5 separate regions of the Homo sapiens genome follow, and all the other regions are linked to region 1. The links come from fine-mapping of genetic effects on gene expression. A gene starts in region 1. Each other region holds a variant in brackets. All regions are shown on one strand. Distances are from middle to middle. Region 1 holds the start of PODN (podocan). Region 2 overlaps SLC1A7 (solute carrier family 1 member 7). Region 3 overlaps SLC1A7 (solute carrier family 1 member 7). Region 4 overlaps SLC1A7 (solute carrier family 1 member 7). Region 5 overlaps SLC1A7 (solute carrier family 1 member 7).

Region 1 (6,254 bases):
CTCTGGGTCTCACAAGGCTGAAGTCAAAGTATTGCTGCCCTGGGCTCCTATCTAGAGGCTCCAGGGGAGAAGGTGGCTCTGCTCCCACATTCATTCAGATGCTGGCAGAATTCTGTTTCATGCCGCTGTAGGACTGAAGTCCCTGTACCATTCCTGGCAGCCTACGGGTGTTTCACTTTCTAGAGGCTGCCTTATTCCCTAGCTTATGACCCTCTTCATCTTTAAAGCTAGTCAAGTCCTTCTGATGTTTCAAATCTCTCTGACCTCCTCTTCTGCTTCATCTTCTCTCTCTCCAGCTAGAGAAAGTTCTCTGTTTTTTAGGGCTCATGTGATTAGGCCCACCAGGGTAATCCAGAATATGCTCCCTATTTTGAAGTCCGTAACCTTAGTTACATCTGCAAAGTCACTTTCATCATGTAACATATCCAAAGGTTTTAGGGATTAAGGTGTGGATATCTTTGGGGCGGGGTTGGGGGGTATTCTGCCTATCACAGTGGTATTTTAGGGTGAGAGAGGAGAGCTTGCAGAACATGAGATTCTTGCCCTGGAGGACTCACAATCCAGTGGGAGAAAGAGGAAAAACAGCAAGAAAGTTCCAATAATAAAGAGTCTGTATGAGATGTTATAGCAGCCCAGGAGACTCCTTGTGTACTTGACTTGGACTGAAGATTTTTCATTATTCTCTTCTTGTTCCCTGGAGAGTCTTGCCTTCATCAAGGTCCTTCAGATGGAATTCATATACCCCAAACACCACCATGTGATTTGATTCCTTAAATGTCCAGAAAATCAAGCTGCTGCCATAGCTATTTGGGACTCTACTGCTTAATAAGATCTCAGCCCTCAGCTCAAAGTAGGAGGAATTATTTTCTTCTTTGATGATGAGGCATAACAAGAGCTCATTGTTCCTCATCTCCTGTTTCTCATCATCAAACCCCACTGAGAGCCTTCTTGTTCTTTACTCCTAGCTCTCTCTACCGTATCAATGTATGTCTTTCCTCCCTCCTCTTTGGAGTGTTCTTGTTTCTTATTGTTTTGAATTAGAAGGCACTTTCCCTGGGCAGTACAGAGGTTACTGTTTAATTCTTGCCACTTGTCATTTCTATTTTAATAATGTTTCCTGGCTATTTGGTCAGGTCTGGGTGATAGTTTTGCAGTAATAGCTACCATTTACTGAGCACTTACCATGTGACAGGTACTATGTAAAGTTCTGTACTTGCATTCTCCAATTTAGACATACTGTGAAGTGTAGGTACTATTTTTATATTCATTTGAACCTAGCTAGGATTTGAACCCAGCTCCAAGCTTAAAGCTTGTACTTGACACTATGTACTTCAGTAATATCAAACAGGAGCTGAAATTGAGGGGCAGCATGAAGGAATTGAAGCAGCACAAGTAGATTCAGGAAACCTCAATTTCAAACTCTGCCTTTACAATCCTTCTGAAAGAGGATTTGCTTCTAGAGCACCAAGGTTGCCTCCATTTTTCCACCAGAGACACTCAAAGTGATTCCTCCTGCAGCTTGTATCTATAGTAGCAGCCAACCACAAAGCACACATGGGCATTTGCTCAGCATTCCATAGAAAAGCCTATTTCTCTGGGAGGTGGTGGGTACTGGGTGTGTGGTGTGCCGTGTAGCGGGCCCCTGAAACACCTTGGCCTTAGCAGTTATAAGTATAGAGAATATCTTCCCCACAGGGCTAGGATGATTAAGATATTTTAAGGATTTAGGATGGTGCCTGTCATTTATTAGGCACTCAATATGTGCTGGCTCTCATTGTCCTAAAAGATTTTTAGTCCATGAGTATTCAAGCTAGTAGAATCCTGTCCTTTTAGCTCTACTTGAATCTAGGCTCAATGTTCAGGAGAAGACACGAGATGCATCTCTGTTGGTCCAGGTCCAATGCTGTGAATCACACCAACTCTTGTGAGTTTGAGCTCCAAAAGGACTGGAATTTGAGGCCAAAGAAGGCAAAATATTTTCCCTCCCCATTCTTGCTAAGTTCTTGGGTTGTTGGTGTAATGGAAACAGACAGTCCTGGGTTCAAATCTAGACTCTACATTTGCCTGCTCAAGTTACCTGCCTGTTTCCATCATGGGAAGAACTTGGGCTGTGGAGAAGGGTAAACCTGGGGTCAAAACCCCAGCTCTGCCAGTGAATGGGCATTTTACTCAGTCAAGTATCCTTTCTGAGGCCATCTCTTTTCTATAAAGTGGGGCAGCAGCAGTTCTTCCTTTGCGGAGTTGTGAAGCAGAGCATAATGCATATGGTATAACCTCACGGGGGCGGCAGCCAGTGAAAAGTCTGGAGCTGCTTTACAGGGGCCATTCATTCATTCATTCATTCAGGTTAAGGTTGAGCAAGGGGTCCCACGTGTGACTTATGCATCCTTCTCCCTCTTCAGTGGGAGGACAGCCAGGTGAGGCAGCTGTGGATGCCCTGCCCACAGGCCAGAGCAGGTAAGGGGAGGAGGCTTGCTACACAGTGGAGGTGCCAAGTACCACCTAAGCCCAGCCGCATTGCCTGTTCCACCGCCGAAGCCCCTGGCGCCAAACAGTGTTGCTTCAGCTGGTAGTAGTTAATACTCCTTTACTTGGAAACATTTTCAGTTCCTGGGAGCAATATGGTGGTGTGAGGTCTCACTGTTCACCCGCCCTGTTTCTCTGTGACTGGGATCTGCATGTCCCCGACTCCGGCCCAATTTACCATTCTTCAAGGCTCACCAGGCTGTGGGCCCAGGGCCAACAGGGATGGGAGTGGAGGGTGGGGTGGAGCGTGGGGAACTTTTCCGGGAAGAGGCCCAGCAGGGTCTTGGCTGGCGGCCCCATTAGCCACGGCCCAGGACCCCAGGGTGGGAGAGTGAACGGAAAGGTACTCGTGCCTGGAGCGGTTGCAACATCCTCTGTAATGAGGAAGATACAGCTCAGAGGCACTGGGTCGAAGGACCCCTCTCCCCAGCCCTCCTTTCAGGTGTCGGGGCCTAAAGGGGGTCCAGTTCCAGTGCGGAAGGCTGGGAACTAGGAAGCGTCGCGGACCAGACAGCCCGCCTTCCCGGTCTCCCGGGTGGGGGTTCGGGGGGCGTGGTGCGGCGGCCGGGGCTGAGAGGGGTCGGTGCGGCGGCTCTGCCTCCCCGGGAAGTGGGAACCGGCCAAGTCCCGAGCGGGGAGGGGCAGGCTTTCTCCTGCCCGCGCCTGGGGGGACCCTACGCCTGTGTCCGAAGGAGGCCGGCGTCCAGCAGATGCTCCCGGGGCGGGTGGGGAGTGGGGGAAGGGGGCGGGAGAGAGGCGGGGAGGAGAAAACCCACAACAAAACTTGCGTCGCGGAGAGCGCCCAGCTTGACTTGAATGGAAGGAGCCCGAGCCCGCGGAGCGCAGCTGAGACTGGGGGAGCGCGTTCGGCCTGTGGGGCGCCGCTCGGCGCCGGGGCGCAGCAGGTACAGGGCGCTGGCAGCCGGGGTGGGCCGAGGGGCCGGGGGCTGAGCCCGGGCAGCGCACTCAGACGTCCCCGCCTCTCCGGATGGCTCCAGCAGCTGCCTGGGGCGGGCCCGCCGCATCTCACCCCCTCTGTAGGACCCTGCACCCAGGGCACGGCCGGAGATCTCCTCCTCTGGAGTGCGACCCCTGCGCAGTCAGGACCCAGGCAGGGGCCTTCTCCTCTCTGAGCAGAGGCTGGTCCCCGTCCCCAGGCCCCTCCCGCTGCGCACATCTGGAAAGAATCTGAGGGCGGTTGGGGGCGGGGGCTGGAGTGGGAGGACGCCGGCGGGCGACAGGGAATGTGGGGGGCAGGTGGAACTGCGTAGGGGCGGGGACCCCTGTCATGAGAGCCTGGGCCCGAAGTATCCCCGCGTCTTTCCACGTCAACTCATCAGGCCCCCTAGCGACTCCAACCTCCACCTCTTTATAGATAGAGAAACTGAGGCCCAGAGAGGGGCAGAGGTCTGGCCCCAGGGCGCGTCGGACGCCGGGTGGGTCCCCTCCGGGGCTCGGCTTCCCCGGCCACTGTGCCGCCCCAGCTTAGTGCCAACCACTAGTTGAGCTAAAGGTCTCAGCTGGCGGTCTGGAGTCCGTCTATCTGTCTACGCGGCTGCTTCCCAGCCGGGACAGCTGGAGGGAGGAAGGGGTGGGGGTCCGCGAAGCGCGAGGAGCGAGATCCGCGCCTTCCTGCGAATGAGGCAGAAGCCCCAGGTTCCAGGTCCCCGAGCCACAGCCCGGCCTGGGGCGGGGGACGAGATCTTGGCGTTGGAATACCTGACGCTCCGTCAGGTGGAAGAGGAGGTGGTGGCGGGGCTGCGAGGCTCCTGGCAGCCTCGGGGGCTGGGGCTAGGAGAGGCAGCCGCAGCCTTTTGGAGAGGAGCAGGCGCGGCAGCAAGGGGCGAGCACCCCGGCCCCGGTGCGCGCGGCACTGACTGAGCTGGTCCGGGAGGCGCGGAGGATGCTCACCCAGCGCTTGGAGTGAATTACTGACCTGTCTGCCCTTCGATTACCGGCTGGCCAGGGAAGGGGAAGCTGTGGTCTGCCCTGCTCCACGAGGCGCCACTGGTGTGAACCGGGAGAGCCCCTGGGTGGTCCCGTCCCCTATCCCTCCTTTATATAGAAACCTTCCACACTGGGAAGGCAGCGGCGAGGCAGGAGGGCTCATGGTGAGCAAGGAGGCCGGCTGATCTGCAGGCGCACAGCATTCCGAGGTAGGTCACTCAGAAGAGCCCGTGGACTGCCCTGGGAAAGACCAGGGGGGACTGCTCTGGGGGTTCTGCTCCCTCATGTCCACTCTTAGGGCCCAAGACCCAGTCTACTCTAGCCTAGAGTGCAAGTTAAGAAATGTCAGAGTCACACGACTGTTTTCATGTCATCTGTGGGAGCACACTTTATCCCTTCTGTCTGAGTCTAGGATAGGGGATTACTAATGGTGGCACTTTTAGGCTTGGTGTAGTCATACATGCGAGTGCTGGCCGTGTCCTGCTTGGAACCCTTAATGAGTCCCTATCACCAACACTAGCATGGCGGTGGAGGCCCTTGGCCACCCAGGCCTCCCGCCCTGTTGACCCTTCCTTAAACACACGTCCCTCTCCTCTAGCCCCACCCCTACCTTTTGATCACACTCTACCTCTGCCTGGAGGGCTGTTTCTCCCACTCCGTCCACTTGGAGAACTCCCGCTCAGTCTTCAAGGCCAACTCAAGGCTCTGGGCAGGAGTCAGAAGACCCACATTTTACTCTTGGCCTTGGCTTTAACACACTAATTTGCAAACTGGGGGAGTCAGAGCAGATCATACTGCAGATCTTTAGATCTTTTCCAACTCTGCCTTTCACAAAGTCGTTCATTCAGCAAACATTTCCCCAGCACCCCCACTCCATGCTTGGGGAGACAGGGGAGGCCCAGCTGAGACTTGAAGGATAAAGCCAGCCAAGGTTGCTGTGGAAGCACCCAGAAACACCCTAACCCAGCCAAGGGGGCAGGAGAGGCTTCCCTGAGCAGGGGCATTTCAGCAGGAGCTTTCTAGGGATGGGCAGCAATGCCAGCCCTTTGTGCTTGAGCTCCAAATCTGCAGAATAGAAAGACGAACATGTAGTCCCAGGATTTCTATTAGAGTCAATAAGATGCAGCTGTTTGGGGCCCAGCACAGAGCAGGTGGTCAGTTGATTTGTACTGACTTTGAGTGGAGAAGGAAGGTAGTGCTGAGGGCTGAGGATCCGCCTCTTGATTTGGGGCTCCCTTTCCCTTCCTTCTTCTAGTCCTACCTTAACCTCACACTTTGGGCCTTGAGGTTTGGTTCCCTGGTAGTGGTCAGGGGAGACAGTGGGTCCCACTTACTTTCTCAGTAACAGTAACCCCTGGTATGTCACACCTATTTGATGCCAGCGGTGACAGGCTGAGACTGCTATTTCATTTAATTCTCACAAGTAGCTCCCAACTCCATTTCTTAGACTAGTTAACAGAGGCTCGGAGCAGTAAAGTGGCTCATCCAGGCTTACACAGCAGTCAGAATTGGAACCCATGCCCTTCTGTCTCTAAAGCTCTCCATATGAGAAACACTCACTGCTGGCTGAGCTTCCCCGCTGTCCAGGGGTTTGAGATGTTCCTCACCAGGTGGACTTGAAACTCCTGGAGACCAGGGAGCTCCCCTGTTCTTCCCCACACACCTCCCACATGGCTGGGTACACAGAAGGGGCCTTGGGGGGCTTATCTTGCTCCATTCTTAGAAGAGCAAGGCTGGGTACAGTGGCTCATGCCTGTAATCCCAGCACTTTGGGAGGCCGA
Region 2 (4,000 bases), 71 kb after region 1:
CAGGGTCAGGCCTGACATCTGAATTTTTCAAAGCAGCTCTGGTGATTTTGCTCTGCCCTGAGTAACAACCTCACACCAGAGTGGCTGTTCCTCAAAGGCAGGGACACCCAGCCCTGGGCTGGCCAGGAGCAAGAGCTCAGGGGACAGTGTGGATGGACTCCTGGCCAGGATGGATAATAGGCCAGTTTGAGGCCAAAGGAGGGAGAGTTCAGGAACGAGGGGTTTTAGGACTCAGAAATGCGTCATATCTCCCCCCTGAAGGTTTAATTTTCCCTTCATAGGAAAATGTTAAAGCGGTTCCATTTCTTAGTGACACGGTTGCTCTGCACCAGTCCAAACTCTATAATAAACAAATGAAATGTATGAACACGTCCTGGCTTTTCTCAACTTAATATCACATGCATTTCCAGCCAAGAGAACACTGAGTCTGGTGGAGGGAGACCAGGCATTTGAGAGCCAGAAGGTGGAGAGCTGGACGGGCCTTCGTTGCTGGGTAAAGAAGCCCAGGGTTGGGGGCCTCACCTCAGATCACATGATCGCTTGTGGTGGAGGCAGGTCGAGGACCCTGGCCTCTGACTTCTGAACAGGATTTTTTTGTTTTGAGTGACTTGTCCAAGGCCACACAGCTAATACATAGCAAGGCCAGGCTGTGTGACACCAGGGTCCATACAATGGCCTCTAAGGTGCCTCTGTTCTGAGAGAGGGGCAATGCCCAGGCAGTTAGGACAGTCAGCAGGAAAGGGCAGACAGAACTGCCTGCCAAGGGTCCTGGCTTCCTCCACCAGTGCACTTATTTAGCTGTTCTGTGATTGTCTATTTTCCTGTCAGTCTCCCCAGCAGTCTGTGAACACCACAGGACAGTCTCTCCATCATCTCTGTGTCTGCAGCACCCAGCACAGGGCCAAGTGTCCAGAAAGCACAATGCATGATTGCAGGATCCATTAATTAATTCACTTGACCAGTATTAATGAGCACCTACTATGTGCCTGGCACTTGGCTAGGTGCTGACAACACAGAGTTGAATCTAGGCAGAGTAGCCTCGTTAACTTTGCAAAGCTTACAGCCCAGTGGATAAAGAAACCAGTTAACAAGTGAATGCATATAGAATGACAACATATGATATGTGCTGTGGCCGGGAGGGAACAGGGTACAGTAAGGGAGAGCCAGGGTGGCATGAAGGGGTTGGTGGGGAGGGCCTTCCTAAGAAGATGATGTGCAAGTTGAGATGGAAAAAAAGAGGAAGAAGAAGAGATGTAAGATGTTGGGGAAGCATGTTCCAGAGGAAGGAACAGCACGTGTGGAGGCCCTGAGATGGTAAGGGCTTGGTCTGCTTAGGGAACTTGAGGCTGGTGGGACTGGAGTATGTGACATGGGATGAGGTGGGGTGGGCGAGGCAGATCATGCAGGGCCTCCTAGACCAGGTTAATGGTCTGCAGGTTGATTCTACATGTCATGGAAGCTGTTGAAGGTAAATGAGGGGCAGGGCCCAATCTGCTTTTCTCAAGATCCTTCTGGCCACTGGGTGGAATAGATGGGACGGGGACAAGAAGTGAGGCGAGGAGACCAGTGAGGTGGCGGTGGAGTCTGGACGTGAGAAGAGAGTGCCCGGGCCTGTAGGGTTGGGAGGAAGCTCCATTCTTCGACTGAGTAGGCAGAATCCACTGGAACTGTGGATGGGGCTGTGGGGTTGAGAGAAAGAGGATAGCCAATGACAGGCCCGATGGAAGACCTGGGTGATGGAGCTGCCATTTG[C/T]AGACAAGAAGAAAACAGGAAAAGGAGGCAGTTTTCTGGGTGGAACTTCAAGTTGGTGACATTAAACTTGAAGTGTGGCTGGGCACGGTGGCTCATGCCTATAATTCCCGCACTTTGGGAGGCTGAGGCAGGTGGATTGCTGGAGCTCAGGAGTTTGAGACCAGCCTGGGCAACATGGTGAGACCCCGCCTCTACAAAAAATACAAAAAATAATTAGGTGTGGTGGTGTGTGCCTGTGGTCCCAGCTACTTGGGGGGCTGAGGTAGGAGGATCACTTGAACCCAGGAAGCCGAGGCTGCAGTGAGCTGAGATTGTGCCACTGCACTCTAGCCTGGGCGACAGGGCAAGATCCTATCTCAAACAAAACAAAACTTGAAACGTTTGTGAAACATCCAAGTGGAGATGTCAAATAGGCAGTTGGTTAATGAAGTATGGAGCTCACAGGAGAGGTCTGGGGAGATCTCCATCTGGGGGCATTGGGCTTGTAGGTGGTATGTTAAAGCTATGAAATTAGATGAGAAAAGGCTGGAGAAGCTGAACATTTGGAGGTTGAGTAGAAGGAGAGAGACCAAGATGGAGGGGCAGAAAGCAGGCAAAAAGTTAGAAGAGTGTGAGTCCATAGGGAAGGGCATTTCATGAGGGCAAGAGTAATCAGCTGCACCCATGGCTGTGGAGAGGCCGTGTGGAAGAACTGGACGTGTCGTACAGATTCAGCAACACAGAGGACTGCTGACCCTGACAGATTCACAGGCTCAGTGAATGACTCCAAAGATGCAGAAAGAGGAGACAGTCACTAGAGTGAGTTGAGGAGTCAGGGAAGGCTTCCTGAGGGAGGTAGCATTTCAGCAGAGCCTTGAAGGCTGAGTCCTGAGAAATTTAAATGCTGCTTGCAAAGGCCTCTGTGCAGAAAATACAAAGCGCCCTTGGCCTGGGGATTATCTCCACTTCACAAAGGGGGGAGGTCCAAGGAGCTGGCTCACTGCTCAGCAGCAGGGAGGCTGGGAGGCAGAACGCATGCAGAGGCTCATCCTCTTTCCTCTCTGCAGAGGAGTCCTGGAAGATGAAGATTTCTCATGGCCTCAGAGCAAAAGGCTCTTAGACACCACCTGGAGCAGCCACTCATTATACATCTGGAATACTCAAGACCTGGACAGGGATAGGGTTGCTCAAGTTCACCTAGCACATCAGTGAAAGGGACCAAGTGATCTCCCATGATTTCCATGGCCCGCACCCTACTGGGTAAGGTCTGAATTCTTCAGCCTGGTGTTCAAGGTCGTTCATGATTGGGCAAGAGCTCACCGTCCAAATTCATCTCGCACCATCCCGCCCTTGTCCCCAAGTCCCAACCTCCTGAGTGCTCAGCATACACAACATATAGTCTTCATGACAACCCTTCGAAGTAGGTGTTGTTATTCCCATTTTACAGATGAGGAAACTGAGGCGTAGAGAGGTGAGGTAATATGTCCAAGGTTACACAGCCAAGCCAGGCTGTGATCACTGGAGTATCCTCAGAGTTAGTTCTCTTTTCCCCAGGCCTTGCTGCATTACCATGAACAGCCCCTCCTCTGGGAAGCCAACCCTCAACTCCCTGGCCTTGAGCTATCTTGGAGTCGGGTCATATCCGTTGATTCCAAATCACCTGTTCTATCCACTAAAAATTCTACTGGATGGAACCAACAACTGGGGCCACTGAATGACTCAGAAGCCGGCAGCCCACGGCACTGCCCATAAAGGCCCCACGGTCACACTCATCCCAGGGCCTGTGGTTGCTCTCCAGCCACCCACAGCAGGAGCAGGGCAGCAACAGAAGCCATCCTCTACCCTCCTGGTTCCGGACCACCTGGTCAAACCCCCGCTCTCACCTGGAGACCACCAGTGGCAGGATCATCATCTTCAGCATCCTCATCAGGAGCTCTCCAGGGAACTGGAAGTAACTAATTTCCTGAAAACACAGTAAGAACTGGGGTTATAGCAAGAGATGCAGACTGCACAGTGGTTCCGTTCTTCACAGTCTTTGAAGCACTATCCCATCTGACTCCCCTGTCTAGCACATGGCAGCAGAGACCATGGAGAAAGAACTGGCTTTGGAGCCACAGAACTGGGTTCCAATCCTGGTAAACACCCCGCCTCCACCAATCCCCCACAAGCTGTGTGGCCTTAAGCATCTTCTGTGACCACTCTGAGTTTTGTATTTTTCTCATCTGTAACATGAGGGTAATAACTACAGTAGTCCCTACTTATTCTCAGC
Region 3 (6,254 bases), 26 kb after region 1:
AGGACGATGGACCGCCGGACTCTTTTCTGCAGCACACGCCTGTGTGCTGTGAGCCCCCCACTCTGCCGTGCTCACACAGACACACCCAGCTGCACACATGAGGCATCCCACATGACACGGGCTGACACAGTCTCATATCCCCACCCCTTCCCACGGCGTGTCCCACGGCCAGACACATGCACACACATCACACCCTCAAACACCCAGCTCAGCCACACACAACTACCCTCCAAACCACCACAGTCTCTGTCACACCCCCACTACCGCTGCCACGCCCTCTGAATCATGCAGGGAAGGGTCTGCCCCTGCCCTGGCACACACAGGCACCCATTCCCTCCCCCTGCTGACATGTGTATGCGTATGCATACACACCACACACACACACATGCACAAGTCATGTGCGAACAGCCCTCCAAAGCCTATGCCACAGACAGCTCTTGCCCCAGCCAGAATCAGCCATAGCAGCTCGCCGTCTGCCCTGTCCATCTGTCCGTCCGTTCCCTGGAGAAGACACAAGGGTATCCATGCTCTGTGGCCAGGTGCCTGCCACCCTCTGGAACTCACAAAAGCTGGCTTTTATTCCTTTCCCATCCTATGGGGACAGGAGCCTTCAGGACTGCTGGCCTGGCCTGGCCCACCCTGCTCCTCCAGGTGCTGGGCAGTCACTCTGCTAAGAGTCCCTCCCTGCCACGCCCTGGCAGGACACAGGCACTTTTCCAATGGGCAAGCCCAGTGGAGGCAGGATGGGAGAGCCCCCTGGGTGCTGCTGGGGCCTTGGGGCAGGAGTGAAGCAGAGGTGATGGGGCTGGGCTGAGCCAGGGAGGAAGGACCCAGCTGCACCTAGGAGACACCTTTGTTCTTCAGGCCTGTGGGGGAAGTTCCGGGTGCCTTTATTTTTTATTCTTTTCTAAGGAAAAAAATGATAAAAATCTCAAAGCTGATTTTTCTTGTTATAGAAAAACTAATATAAAAGCATTATCCCTATCCCTGCAGCCTGTGGCTATGTCTGTGCTTGCTTCCTGCCAGGTGCTGGCCTGGTGCCGGGTGGAGGGGGCAGGATACAAGCCCCTCAGCGCCCTGGCCAGAACAGCAGACATCAGTGGAAAGTCCAGTTCTCGGGGCCCGCAGAGTAGCTGCACAGGCAGGCATCCTGGGAGAACAGGGCATAGCCTCAGGCGAGGGGGCCTGAGGTGTGTGCAGATGGCCCACTCGGGAATAGTAGGTGAGGCCTGAACCAGCACACGCGGCCTGTGAGCTTGCTGTGCATTCCCAGAGGTGGAGCATCCAAGCAAAGGACCTCATGGGCTTTGGGCCTGTTAAGGGCTCACCTGGAGGGTCATGGGTCACCTTTGCACTGACAGGGTGTTACTAGTGGGTTCTAGAGGAGAGCAGGGGACTGGAGGCAGGCCTGGGAGCTGGAGCAGAGCCGACTTGGGGGCCCAGGTCTCCGCAGACCTTTCCAGGAAAGAGCTAACAGATGCACCCAGTGTGCTTCCCACCCCAGTGGGAGAGCTGCCACCGGGAGGTGGTACCCAGCTCTGAGCTAAGAAGAGCCTCTGATGGGCAGAGCTGCCCCACTGTGGGTTGAGATGCTCGGGAAGTGGTGACCTCCCTGCTGCTGGAGGTGTGTAAGGATGCTCCTGCCAAGTCCACTAAAGAGCAGACTCCTGCCTTGTGCTGGGACAGACTCGATTGCTCAAGGGGTCTTAGAGATGTGACACCTAGAAGGGGCTGCTAAGCTTGTCTGCATGAAGGTGGGATGACCGATTGCATGACATCTGACCTCTCCCAGGTGAGGAGGCCTCAGGGAAGGAAGGATGCTCTCGTGGAGGCCTGCAGCCCCCAGCCCTGCAGTGGGAGGAGGTGTCCTGGGGTCGTGCTCTTCCCAGACTCCTCACACTCCACCCCTGGGAGGAGGGTGGAAGGAGTTCAGGAATGGGGCAGTGGGAGCAGGTGCCCTCTTGACGCTGAGTGACCTGGGGGAGGCCTGTCCCCTCCCTGGGCCTTAGTGTCTTCAAGGGCATCATGGTGCAAGCCCCTCCAGACCCCAGAGCTGTATCTTCTCCCCAAGGCATATCTGGAACAGGCTGTGTTGCCAGGGCCCTTCTGTGTGCCCTGCAGGCCTCCTGGAGGCAGCCTGGGGTGTGAGAATGAGGGAGACCATCTGGAAATGTCCCTGGGCACGCCCCTGTCTAAAGCAAAGCATTCACCACGGGGAGCCAGACTGGGAAGGAAATCTGTTTCTTCTTTGGGGACTGATCTCAAGGCCCTGCCTGCAGAGCAGAGCCTAGACCATGGCAGAGAGGTCTGTCCACACTGGACGATGCCCAGCTGCCCTGTGGTTATTGAGACAGGCTCCTGGGTAGGCTAGCTTATACTCTGTCTTCTGCATGTGACAGCTCAGATAGGACTGTCCTTACTGCAGCCACCAGGACAGGCTTCTCTGCACTCTGGCTGCCCATACAGGCCTGTCCACACACTGGCAGCCTAGACAGACCTGTCTACACTCCAGCCAAATGGACAAGCCTGTTAGATTCTGGCCACCTGCATAGGCCCGCCCATATCCTGGCTGCCCAGACAGGCCCGTCTGCACTCTGGCCGCCTGTATTAATTAGCCCAGTAGCTAATATCATATTTGCTGGCTAGCATAAGGTGTTGAAGCCCACAAGAAGTGAAAAACAAAATACCTTTATTTAGTTAACACTGAATTTGCAAACACAGAAAGGAATAGAAAACCTGACTCCACTTGGACGCACAGGCCTTTGGGGAGTTCTGACACCAGGGCCCCATCGGCAGCTCCACCAGAGCATCCTGGCTGCACCTCCTTCCCGGAGTCCTGGCTTGCCTACCTATTCCATGGGAGGTTGGCCTGGATGTGTCAAGGGGGCCTTTCAGCTCTAGTAAAGACATCTGTCTCCACATCCAAGGAGCTTTGCAAAAGACACGTGGCAGGACAGGAGACTGGACGCACTGTGGCCTGGGGAAGGCAGCGGGGCTTGGCCCTGGGCTGCTCCCCTTGGGGAGAACTGTGTGGCTGAGGCCACCTGTTATGGGGTGGGGCCTGGGCCTGGACACAGCTGCAGGCTGCCCTGTCCTCCAAGAGGAGAGGCGGGGCTTGAAAGATTTGAGTTAGTGTCTTGACCTTAACGTGAGACCTTGGACAAGTGTTTTCAGCTCTCAGAGCCTCAAGTCTGTCATCCAGAAAGTGGGGCCGGATAACCCCTGCCTGCCGCCCTCACCGGGCTCACACCGGGGAAACTGTCACAGCGGGGCCTCAGGCAATGCCGGGCCCATCACTCCCTAGATGGGGCTCCCCCATGCAGCCTTTCCCTTCTCTGAGATACATTTTCCGTCAAGCGGGGTTAATTCCAGCCTCTCAAGGGTGAGAAGAATGTGTGATCCTGGCCCCTGCCGGCTGCTCAGGAGGGTTGGAGAGTCGAGTTCCTGCCTCAGGACCCTGCCCCTGGAGGCCTCGCCTGCCCCTGCAGCTCCGCAGGCTCAGACATTGGTCTCCAGCTCACTGATCTGGATGGTGCAGTGGTTCAGACTCGCAGCGGGCAGCTCCTCATCCTGCTCCACTTGAACGGGGACGTGGTGGGGGCAGGTGGGGCCCAGGGTGAGCTCGGAGGCCTCGGCTACACTCTTCACACAGCCATTCTGCTGGGCTGCCACGATCTCCTGGAGGCTCACTGGCTTGGTCTCGCAGGGCAGCAGTTTCTGGTGAAGGGAAACAGGTCTTTGTAGCAGCAGGAGGGACCAAGGTTAGATACGAGGGAGGACTGAGGGCCAGTGGGGCAGAATGAGCTCAGGGCTAGGAACCACAAGATGGATTTTCCTGCAGACACGCTGTGTGACCTCGGCAGGTCACGGCCTCCCTGGGCTCCTGTTCCCAAGCGTCCTGCCTCCCACTGGAGCTGGCTTAGTAGAGGAGGGGACTTAATCCACAGGGTCCATCTGGGGAATTGGTGGATCCCCTGCCTGACCTCAGCTTCTTCCCCATGATGTGGGGACAGCCTTCTCCATTTGCCTGTAGAAGGAGCCTGAAGCCCACACAGCCTGCACAGACCTACAAATGCTCACATGTTGGCTAAACTGGACAGACCATCCCGACACGAGGGCGGG[G/A]AATTTTATCATATCTTGTTCTACTGTTCCTCCTGTGTCTATATCAGCGCCAGCCACAGCGGGTGCTCAATAAATAGATGTTAGAGGAATCAGTCATTCTGTAACGGATGAGGAGACCGAGGCCCAGAGGCATGGAGGGAGGGATTGGCTGGAGGCTGCCGAGCTGGTTGGTGGAAGATCTGGTGCCCTGCCCACCCTGCGTGGCTCCACCCTCCTGGCAGCCTCTGGATCTCACTGCTCTCACCTCGGTGCCTGTGTCCCGGGCAAAATCCTTCCGACATATATGGGCCATGATCCCCGCTGCCAGCGCATCACCCAGCACGTTAATCATGGTGCGGAAACGGTCCCTGGTGAGCCAAGGTTGGGGGTGAGTGGTGGGCACTTGAAGGGGAGCTGGAAGAGGGCAGTGCTCAACCCAGCACAGTACAGCACGGCCGGTGACCAGCTGTCATGCAAAGCCTGCAGCCAGATGGCTTCCTGGCTCCTCCCAAGCCCACCCTTTGGCATCATTGAAGCAGCTTCTTGGCATGCAGCTGTGGGTTCCACAGGTCCCCATGCTTAGAAGGGTTAGGTTTGGTTTAATCCTCTGCTGTTTCTGTCTTGAAATTCTTTATAGGTTTGTTTTTTGTTTGTTTGTTTGTTTGTTTTTTGAGACAGAGTCTTGCTCTGTCACTCAGGCTGGAGTGCAGTGGCGCCATCTCGGCTTACTGAAACCTCCATCTCCCAGGTTCAGGTAATTCTCGTGCCTCAGCCACCTGAATAGCTGGGATTACAGGCACATGTCACCAGTCCCAGCTAATTTTTTCTTTTCTAATTTTTAGTAGAGATGGGGATTTTACTGTGTTGCCCAGGCTGGGCTCTGGAATTCCTGGGCTCAAGGAATGCTCCTGCCATGGCCTCTCAAAGTTCTGGGACATATAGGCGTGAGTCATCATGCCTGGCCTTTACAGTTTTTGGACTGGGTTCCACATTTTCATTTTTGAACACTGGACCCCACAAATTATGCAGCCAGGCCTGTGCTAATGAGTAGGGCACTCCCACAGTGCCAAGCGGGGCAGTCCCCAGCCTTCTACCCTGGGGAAGGGACTCAGCCGCTCACCCTGATCCCTGCTGACCCTGAAGTCAGCCCCTCCCAGAGGGCTAGAGCTAGAGGCAAAGTCCACTCACAGAGCCCAGTCAACGGCAATGATGAGGGTGATGTCATCGGTGGGCAGTCCCACGGAGGTGAGCACGATGACCATGGTGACGAGGCCGGCCTGGGGGATGCCAGCTGCCCCAATGCTGGCTGCAGTGGCTGTGATACTGCAGGGGGTGGGAAGGGGAAGAGGAGCAGCAGGAGGGGCAGGGTGCATTGTCAGGGTCTGGCTCCAAGGAAGAGGTTGAGTGTCAGGGCCTCTGGGACAGCCATTTGGTGCGGGGGGTGGGTAGGAATGCCACACCAGGGAGCTCTCGGGGTCAAGTCCCTCCTCACAGTCCTGAAGCCCCATGGACCCCCATTCCTGGCCTCAGGAGAATCCCTGGGAACTGTGCAAACACCTGTGTCTGGAGCTGTGCCTCTGTGGGTTCCAGGAAGCTATATTGCTATGGGGCTGCCCAGGGACTCTGACTGACCACCACATGGCTCTGCCTGCCTGCCTCTGGGGCCTGGCCTCCAGGGTCAGACCTGTGTGCTTGGCTGGGCTGTGAGGCCTCCGTCAGCCTCAGCCGCATCCCAGCACCCCTTCGTTGGCTCCTGCCACACGGGCGGCCTCTCCAAGGTCCTGAGTCCTGTCCCTGGCCTCCGCTCGCCCTGTGGCCACCAGCAATGCCCTCCCTCCCGGGCTGTCCTCCAGGCTCGGAGCTCCCAGCCCTGGCCCTCTGCCTGCTGTGCTCCGAGCCCAGGCTCGCTCGCTTCAGATACCCCTCAAGTCTGGGAGCCTGGGAATCCCCAAGGCCCCCAGCCCCCGCCCCATCCACCCAGGTGCAGTGTCAGGGTGCACCTGATGGTGATGATCTGGCCAAAGTCCAGCTCGTAGTTGTTGACCTGGGCGATGAAGATGGCGGCCACAGCCTCGTAGAGCGCAGTGCCGTCCATGTTGATGGTGGCACCCACGGGCAGCACGAAGCGAGCGATGCGCCGGTCGATGTGGTTG
Region 4 (4,000 bases), 46 kb after region 1:
GGCCTTGGGGTCATCTGGACATCTCCTTTGGTGGTCGGGCCTTCCTCAGGCCAGCCTCCTCTGCAGTCTCACCCACTACATCATGGACACTCCACAGCGCCAGCACCTGCCGCCCCCAGACTGTGCCACATACTTTCCAGAGCCAGGCATTTGTCTACACTGTTCCCTCTGCCCGGAATGCCCTGCCTGCCTCTTGGTCTGGTGAACTACTCAAATCTACCACAGATCAAGCACCTCTTCCTCTGTCCAGCCCTCCCTGACTGCCCCACGAGACCCTGCGGCCCTTCTGTGTGTAGGTCGCTGCTGCTCCGCCACACCACCGTGCGGTCACTGGCTCACCTGTCTGCCTCCCCCATATAGTGGCCGCCTTGCAGGTGGGACTTGGTTGTTCATGTCCTATCTGTGGGGCCTAACACGGGACCTCGCACATAGGTGGGCTCATTATTCTTAGTAACATATTTTATTATAAAGCTAAAGGTGGAGGAGTCTTTCCTACTAGATAAAAAACGGTGGCTCACGCCTGTAATCCCAGCACTTTGGGAGGCCAAGGCGGGCGGATCACGAGGTCGGAGATCGAGTCCACGGTGAAACCCCGTCTCTACTAAAAATACAAAAAATTAGCTGGGCACGGTGGCGGGTGCCTGTAGTCCCAGCTACTCAGGAGGCTGAGGCAGGAGAATGGCGTGAACCCGGCGGAGCTTGCAGTGAGCCGAGATCGCGCCACTGCACCCCAGCCTGGGCGGCAGAGCAAGACACCGTCTCAAAAAAAAAAAAAAAGTAACTGTCAAACTGTGATACTGACACAGCAGTCGATGGAAAAGTCCATGTAAGCTGTAGCCTAGAAACAGAAACTAGCACCTCTAAGTGTTTCGTACTTGATAAAAGTTGTTTCACAAATCAGTGAGGAAACGAAGGATTCATTATAGAATGCTGTGCAGCTGACCAACGGTTTGGAAAAAATAGATGTTAGATGCTTACACCAAAATAAATTCCAAAAGGTTTAAAGAAATAAATAAGTCTTTGAAAAATGAAACCAGCTGGGCACAGTAGTTCATGCCTGTAATCCCAGCACTTTGGGAGGCCAAGGTGGGCACATCACCTGAGGTCAGGAGTTTGAGACCAGCCTGGCCAACATGGCGAAACCCCGTCTCTACTAAAAAATACAAAAATTAGCTGAGTGTGGTGGTGCTCGCCTGTAGTCCCAGCTACTCAGGAGGCTGAGGCTGCAGAATTGCTTGAACCCGGGAGGCGGAGGTTGCAGGGAGCTGAGATCGCACCACTGCACTCCAGCCTGGGGACAGAGTGAGACTCTGACTAAAAAAAAAAAAAAAAAAAAAAAAAAGGCAAAGAAACCATAAAAAGCTAGAAGAAATATAGGTTGAGATCTTATCATGTCTCAGTATAGGAAATGACTCTCTAAGAACAAAATGAGCAATAAATCAATAGATTTTACTACATGAAAATAAAGAAATCCCTAAGCGCAACATAGCATCCTGGATTGGATCCTGCAACAGAGAAAAAGGACATTCGTGGAAAAACTGATGGAATCCAAACGAGATCCGTAACTTAGTTAATAGTGTTGTACCAATTTAATTTCTCAGTTTTGACTAACGTACCCTAGTTATGTAAACCGCTAACATCAGGGGAGGCCAGGTGAAGGGTGTGTGGGATCTCTCTGTACTGTCTACAACTTTTCCGTAAACCTAAAACTATGCTAAAATGGAAAGCTGAATGCTTGAGAAGCTAAGACAGATTGCAATACAAATAAAACCACAAAGCAAGTGACGAGCTGGAGAGACTGCGTGACCAAGCACTACCATCCTAAATCTACTAAGAGCTTTTACAAATCTTGGCCTGGTTTCTACCTTCACTATCTCCTCTCATCAGAATATCAGCTCCCTGGAGGGCGGAAGCTCTGTGTTTGTTCACTGTTGTGTCTCCAGCCCCGGGAAGAGTTCCCGGCACATACCAAGCACTCAGTAAATATTTGCTGCGTAAACCAATAGACCACAAAAACCCGACAGGAAAACGATGGAAAGATACTACCAGGCAATTCGTGTTACAAAAGAAGAAAAGTCAGTGGCCAAAAATGCTTTTTAAAATGTTTAGTTTCATCAACAAATTCAAGATATTTCCACCTGTCAAACTGACAAAGTATTTTTCAAATGACAGTGCACAATGTGGGAGGTTTGGTGAGATGGGCACCCTCACATGGTCCTGGCAGCAACCTTTCTCTAAAAGCATTTGTATCTTTGTCTTCACAGTCCCCTTCTAGGAGTGTGTCTTGTGAGAAATGCCAACTCTGAGGTGAGCATCTGGTAAGAGGCTTCC[G/A]TTGCATGCCTGCTCTTCCTCCAACCTGCCGCCCCACACTCACACTGCCTCCACCTGGGTCGCCTCCCACTCACTCTTGTCCTCGGTAACCCTCTTCCCCTCTTTCAAGACTCAGTTTACACACACGGAGAACATTTGGAAGCTCGTAAGAAGCCAAATGGAACTTATACCTATATAGACATTTCTTTACAACTTCCTTTACAATTACAATCATTTTAAATGTGGGCCTTGGCAGGGACAGCTAGTTGCCTATGCAGTCTCCATTCTCCCGTCCTTCCTTAACAGAAGTCCTATTATGTTGTGGGGACCAAATGGGACCTGCCATCAAGCTCTGATTCTCTTGCTAATGGGGTGGCCATCGAGAGGTGAGTGGAAGTCGTTGGGTGGTGATTCCTGGAAAACTCTTAAGGAGGTGCCCATTCAGCCAGGACCCTTTGGTCCGTTCCTCCAACTTTCTTCTTTCTGCCTGGAACATGGGGATAATAGCTAGAGCTTGAGCAACCTTCATGGACCATGAGACTCAGATGAAAGCCAGGTGCTAAGCATGGCACGGCACACAGGAGGGCAGGGCCTGGGACCCTGGTGACTGCCAGCTGCCCACCTCCCACTTCTGGACTGTTCTTCAGGAACAAATGCAAACCTTACCTTACTTAAGCCTCTGCTGATCTGGCAGCCAAAAGCAAGTCCTGACTCGTGTGTGCTCATACTAATAACCAATGAATTTATCCTGCAGATTTTAATCAAGAATTATACCTTTGATTATTAAATGGGGAAATGTACATTTTCTTTTGGCTTTGAGCCTTCACGGGAAGACTTTTCTGCTTGTCCCATGAGGTCCGTGCTCCTGGTGGCAGCTACATAAAACACAGAACGTGCCTGGGGACGTTAATAGCCATGCCTATCAAATACCCACACACTCTGCCCTGTGCCTCCCTGCACGTTTTCTAGGCAGAGCCAGAGTCCACCTCTCAGCTCCCCTCTTCACCTGCTACTTGCAAATTCTCACCGAGATGCTTCCAAACCCACCCCTAATAACATGTCCCCAAACCAAGCCCTAAAGGTGGGAATTGTTCCTTCCCAAGCACAGCTCCTGGAAGCTTCCTCCAATCCCTGAGAGGGTAGTTGGGAGCTATAAATAGAGCCCAGTCATTACTTAATCTCTGTGGTGTTTTAATAAGATTCGAAAAAAAAGAGAAGGGGCCAGACCTGATTAGTGCTCTGCTTGGGTTTCTGTTTTGCGTGCTGCACTGTGAGCAGGCGCCAGCCTTCTGGAGCGGCCCCCCGGAGCCCTGGAAAATGAATTCCTGTCTTGGAGGGTCATCCAGGGACATGGCCTGTTGTGTTCCTCTGGAGTCATCTTTGAGACAAGGATGCAGATCTTTGCCCCTGTGGTGTGCCTTATGTCCCCACGCAGTGGGCTCCCACTTTCCATTTGTCCCACTTGCCCTGGTTCTCAGTTCTCTTCCTGGTCATCAGTGTTTTTGTTCAGTCTTCAGCACCTGGTAGGCACCTGTTCTGGGCCAGGGCAAGGGTCAGGAGGCCCCTGGTCCCTCACTGCCAGTGTCCCCATCTCCTTCACAGCCTCTCAGAGCATCAGGAGTGGCTGTCAGTGCACCCACTTGTCCGTCTGTCCTAAGATGGTGGGCAGCCCTGGGGTGGGGGCGTGAGG
Region 5 (4,000 bases), 65 kb after region 1:
AGCACCTGCCGGGACCTGCTTTGTAAATTAGCAGACAGCATTGTGCCTATTTTATGGCTGAGGCTAAGAGGGTGAACTCGAGGTGAGACCACAGTCCCGAGGCAGGGCAGCTCCCTCAAGAGTCTAGCAGCCTCCCAAGTGCCTTGTGACAGGCAAAAGACTTTGCAAACTCTGTGCCTCCCGAGTGGGTGAGTAAAACAGGATCACCAAGGTGAAGGTGCAGCGTGGAAATTCTTATGACATCACATTGGGGGAAAACCAAAGCAAGCAGGCTACAGATTTATTTTTGTGGAAGATACTTTTTGGGTTATACTGTAAGTTGAAAGCAAAAAGGATTGGGGTAGTGACAAGTGGCCTGCTCGGGGAAGAATGGGAAAGTAAGGCTCCCAGGCCCTGAAGGCTTGACTTTTCTAAATAAAGATATAATTGGCATGGCGTTAGTGAACTGTGGCAGCACACGGAAGACGGCTGAGGAGGGCAAAACCATGGGAGGGGGGCCCCAATGCAGGTCCCGTCCAGATGATTCGTTCCTATACTAATGTAATGTGAGGCAGAATTTTCTAATTTTTGTCCAAGGCGTCTCTGTTCCTGGGTGGACAGAGCAAGTTCCCCTGCAGGCAATTTTATTTTGCAAAGAATCTTTTGAGCAGCAAATGTCGGATGAGAAGGCAGCACTGTCAGGGGAAGGGAGGAGCTGTTGTGGCTTGATGAATGCCTCCTCCTTGAGAACTTGAGATCTGCAGAGTTATGGAAAACTGTGCCCATTTGCACCAGAGGATCAGGGCCTTCTGAGAGGAAAAAGACTAAGACCTGAGCCCCAGTTCCCTGTGATTTGAAGTTAGCACCAGGGTACGCTAGAGTCCCCCAGCCGAGATGGCCTGGCATTCAAGGCCTCCAAAATGAACCCAGTAGGAGGGAAAAGGGAATTGGGGCTCAACTCCCGGGGAGCTGATCTCAGGACATGACTGAGGCTGCTTTAGGAACAATTATTGAGCACTTCGGGGGGACCTAGGGGTCTGGAGGCATCCCTGTGGCCTGAGCAGCGTTGTGCACCTGCAAGGGGCAGTGTGCAGACTTCCACCAGAGCGTGCGGGACCTGCGTTCCACAGGGCCACCCCGTGGAGGGAACCAGAGCAGCAGGGCTGGTGGCAGGACCCCATGTTCCAGCTCTGTTTACACCAGAAGCTTCCACTGAATGAAATAAGCTGACTGTGGCCACGGGGTGGAGGCCTCCAGAGGGACACACTGGGCTTCCTGCTAGTACAGGGGAGTAGGACCATATTCAGTGTATTCAGTTTCAAGTCAGTAAAGCAAAAACAAAGTGTAATTAATTTTGCCTTTGAAAATCTCTTAAGTTGCCCATAGAGTCCAGGAGGTATAGTTTTGTGTAAGTTCATTCAAGACAGTTTCCCTTCCAGCCTTGGAGTGGGTTGCTGTTTCTTTAAGCAAACACCAGATGAGAGCATCAGCATACACTCAGAGGCCGTGATCTAAAACACCC[A/G]CCCCTCTGCAGGCCCTAGAAACTCTCTGGCTTCAGGGAGGTGCTCACTGTTCAGGAGGTGCCTGGGCACAGCGGCTGGTGGAGGCAATTCAGGCCCTCCTCTCTCGTGGCCCTCACCTGGGGAAGAGCCCTTGGAAGGAGGAGTCTCCTGTCTCATTTAAATGATTTTCTCCCTTTTTCAGAGCACATGTAATTGAATTCACTTAAGTTAAATGCACATATGATGGGACTCCACTATAAGGCGGGGGTGGTGGGAGGGCTGAAATAAACTGAAAACCGCAAACCTGGAGTTACGCCGGGTTATACAGTTAAATAACTAAATGTACCCACCAGCAAGCAGATTTCACCAGTGGGTTCCCTGCATGGTAAGCCCACAGAGAGGCTCTGGCCAGAGCCTGCATATGACTGTCCTTGCTGGCAAGTGTCTTGATCTCTGGGAATGAATAAATCAGTATGTGGCATATTTGATTGCCCCTTGCTAGCATCGGGGGACAGGCCCAACCAGCTCTGGGGCCCAGACAGTTGGGCTTCTGATCCCATCAGCCAAGGACCTCACCTCACATCTGGTGAATTCACCAGTAAGAATAAGAACAAACCTTGTAGAGAAGAAATCACAGTGGCAGAATTAGCAATGTGGAGTGAGAGGATGGTTTCTTCTCTGTTATCCAAAATGTTTGTAATTTGCTTATCTAATTTTTTTTTTTTATGAGATAAGGTCTTGCTTTGTTGCCCAGGCTGGAGTGCAATGGCATGAACATGGCTCACTGCAGGCTCAACCTTCTGGGCTCAAGCGATCCTCCCACCTCAGCCTCCCAAGTAGCCAGGACTACAGGTGCCCACCATCATGCCTGGCTAATTTTAAAAGTTTTTTTTTTTTTTTTTTTGTAGAGATGGGGTCTCACTATGTTGCCAGGGCTTTATCTAATTTTTTAAAATATGAAAACATCTTTAAAGTTCAGCTCCTAACTGTCCTCCAGGGCCCATACAAATGCTGATGGTGAGACTTTCCCTGAACTCTGCTGCCGCTGCCCTCTGCTGCTTCTTATTCATTGAAAATGTATTGATCAGGCACAGGCAGTAGCAGGCCCTGTATGGGGCAGTGAGAAATCAGATGAAAGGGGGAGAGTTATATTCTTCAGAATTATTTTTACAGTAAGGGAGCAGTCCTTATTCAGAAGAAAGTTCTTGATGAACTACTTGGACAGAAGCTGAGCAGTGGCTCCACTCAACCCAAGCCGGCTCCAGGGAGAGAGGTGAGCAGAAGTGACTTCTGAAAGACATCCAGCTGCTCTGGGGACAGAGGAAGAGAGAAGGAAGGTTCCAGGAGAGAGAAGGAGGTGGACAGGCCCTCAGGCCACCCCGATGACCCAAGCCCTGGTATATCCTCCTCCCGCAGTGTGGCAGTGCCTGTGACTTCTATGAGAACACAACAAGGTGGTGGGATGTCTCCCTGTGGTTATGTGGTAGAAGACTTTGACTCAGAAGACTGGTGAGGACCGGGCTTCCTGCTGGCCTTGATGACCTACAGTGCTATGCTGTGAGCTGCCTGTGGAGACAGCTGGGTGGGGAGCTGCAGGCAGCCTCTAGAACCTGAGTGGCTCCACTGCACAGCTGTCAATGCTGGGCCCTCAGGCAGCAGCCATGGGGAATCACTTCTGTCCATGCCTGAGGGAGCATGGAGGCGGATTCTCCCTGGTTGGGCCTCCGGATGAGAACAGAGCCCAGCGGACACCTGGATTGCAGCCTAAGACTCTGAGCAGAGGACTCAGCCAAGCCCGCCCAGACTGCTGGCCCAGGGACTGAGGCAACCATGAAGTGTGTTTATGTCACTAAGTTTGTGATAATTTGTTACACGGCAATGATAACGAATACACACAGACACACACACAGAGAACCAGGAGATAACTGAAGGCACTACTTGAAGCAAGGAATGCTGGTGTGAATGGGAAGCTGATGAAGGCTGCTTGGTTGTAGGAGTGAAGGGCATAGAAAAGCAAGAGGCAGTAAGAATAGGAATTGGGCAGGGTGCGGTGACTCACACCTGTAATCCCAGCACTTTGAGAGGCCAAGGCAGGAGGATGCCTCGAGCCCAGGAATTCAAGGCCAGCCTTGGCAACATAGTGAGAGCCCCATGTCTACCCAAAATTTAAAAAATTAGCTGGGCATGGTGGCGTGTGCCTGTAGTCCCAGCTAATTGGGAGGCTAAGTCGGGAGGATCGATTGAGCCCTGGAGTTGAAAGTTACAGTGAGCTGTGGTCATGCCACTGCACTCCAGCCTGAGGGACAGAGTAAGACCCTGTCTCAATTAAAAACAAAAAAGAATAGGAATTCATGACAGATAAGGAGGCTCTGACTGTCATGGCGCAAGGAATGGCTCTGGGTGCCAGGTGAGTGCATCATGGAGAAGTGGGCAGGACCTGGCCAGGGCCCCTGCGGAGGCCCTGTGGATGTGCAGGTGTGCACGACTCAGGTGAAGCAGGGCATGCTGCATGGTCTGTA

Evidence for each region.
Region 2: its variant is fine-mapped to the expression of PODN in whole blood (TOPMed, PIP above 0.99). The same link has a PIP of 0.9 or more in blood mononuclear cells.
Region 3: its variant is fine-mapped to the expression of PODN in whole blood (TOPMed, PIP above 0.99).
Region 4: its variant is fine-mapped to the expression of PODN in whole blood (INTERVAL, PIP above 0.99).
Region 5: its variant is fine-mapped to the expression of PODN in whole blood (TOPMed, PIP above 0.99). The same link has a PIP of 0.9 or more in blood mononuclear cells.

The regions. Positions count from the first base shown.
Region 1 is chr1:53,058,878-53,065,131 of GRCh38, forward strand. PODN (podocan) reads left to right here and starts at 3,336. Exons shown (of 11, transcript NM_153703.5): 1 at 3,336-3,431. RefSeq lists a silencer at 3,314-3,501.
Region 2 is chr1:53,130,736-53,134,735 of GRCh38, forward strand. SLC1A7 (solute carrier family 1 member 7) reads right to left here. Exons shown (of 11, transcript NM_006671.6): 2 at 3,615-3,694. Among named protein-coding and RNA genes, the nearest start is that of SLC1A7, 9.9 kb to the right of the region's middle. The variant C/T (reference allele first, on the strand shown) is at 1,753.
Region 3 is chr1:53,084,511-53,090,764 of GRCh38, forward strand. SLC1A7 (solute carrier family 1 member 7) reads right to left here. Exons shown (of 11, transcript NM_006671.6): 8 at 6,102-6,254; 9 at 5,290-5,424; 10 at 4,367-4,469; 11 at 2,673-3,717. The coding sequence ends at 3,499. It overlaps PODN (podocan), which reads left to right. Exons shown (of 11, transcript NM_153703.5): 11 at 3-984. Among named protein-coding and RNA genes, the nearest start is that of PODN, 25 kb to the left of the region's middle. The variant G/A (reference allele first, on the strand shown) is at 4,123.
Region 4 is chr1:53,105,838-53,109,837 of GRCh38, forward strand. The region is part of intron 3 of SLC1A7 (solute carrier family 1 member 7); the gene reads right to left. Among named protein-coding and RNA genes, the nearest start is that of SLC1A7, 35 kb to the right of the region's middle. RefSeq lists enhancers at 1-111, 112-611 and a silencer at 7-214. The variant G/A (reference allele first, on the strand shown) is at 2,332.
Region 5 is chr1:53,124,673-53,128,672 of GRCh38, forward strand. All of the region lies in intron 2 of SLC1A7 (solute carrier family 1 member 7), which reads right to left. Among named protein-coding and RNA genes, the nearest start is that of SLC1A7, 16 kb to the right of the region's middle. RefSeq lists an enhancer at 1-711. The variant A/G (reference allele first, on the strand shown) is at 1,502.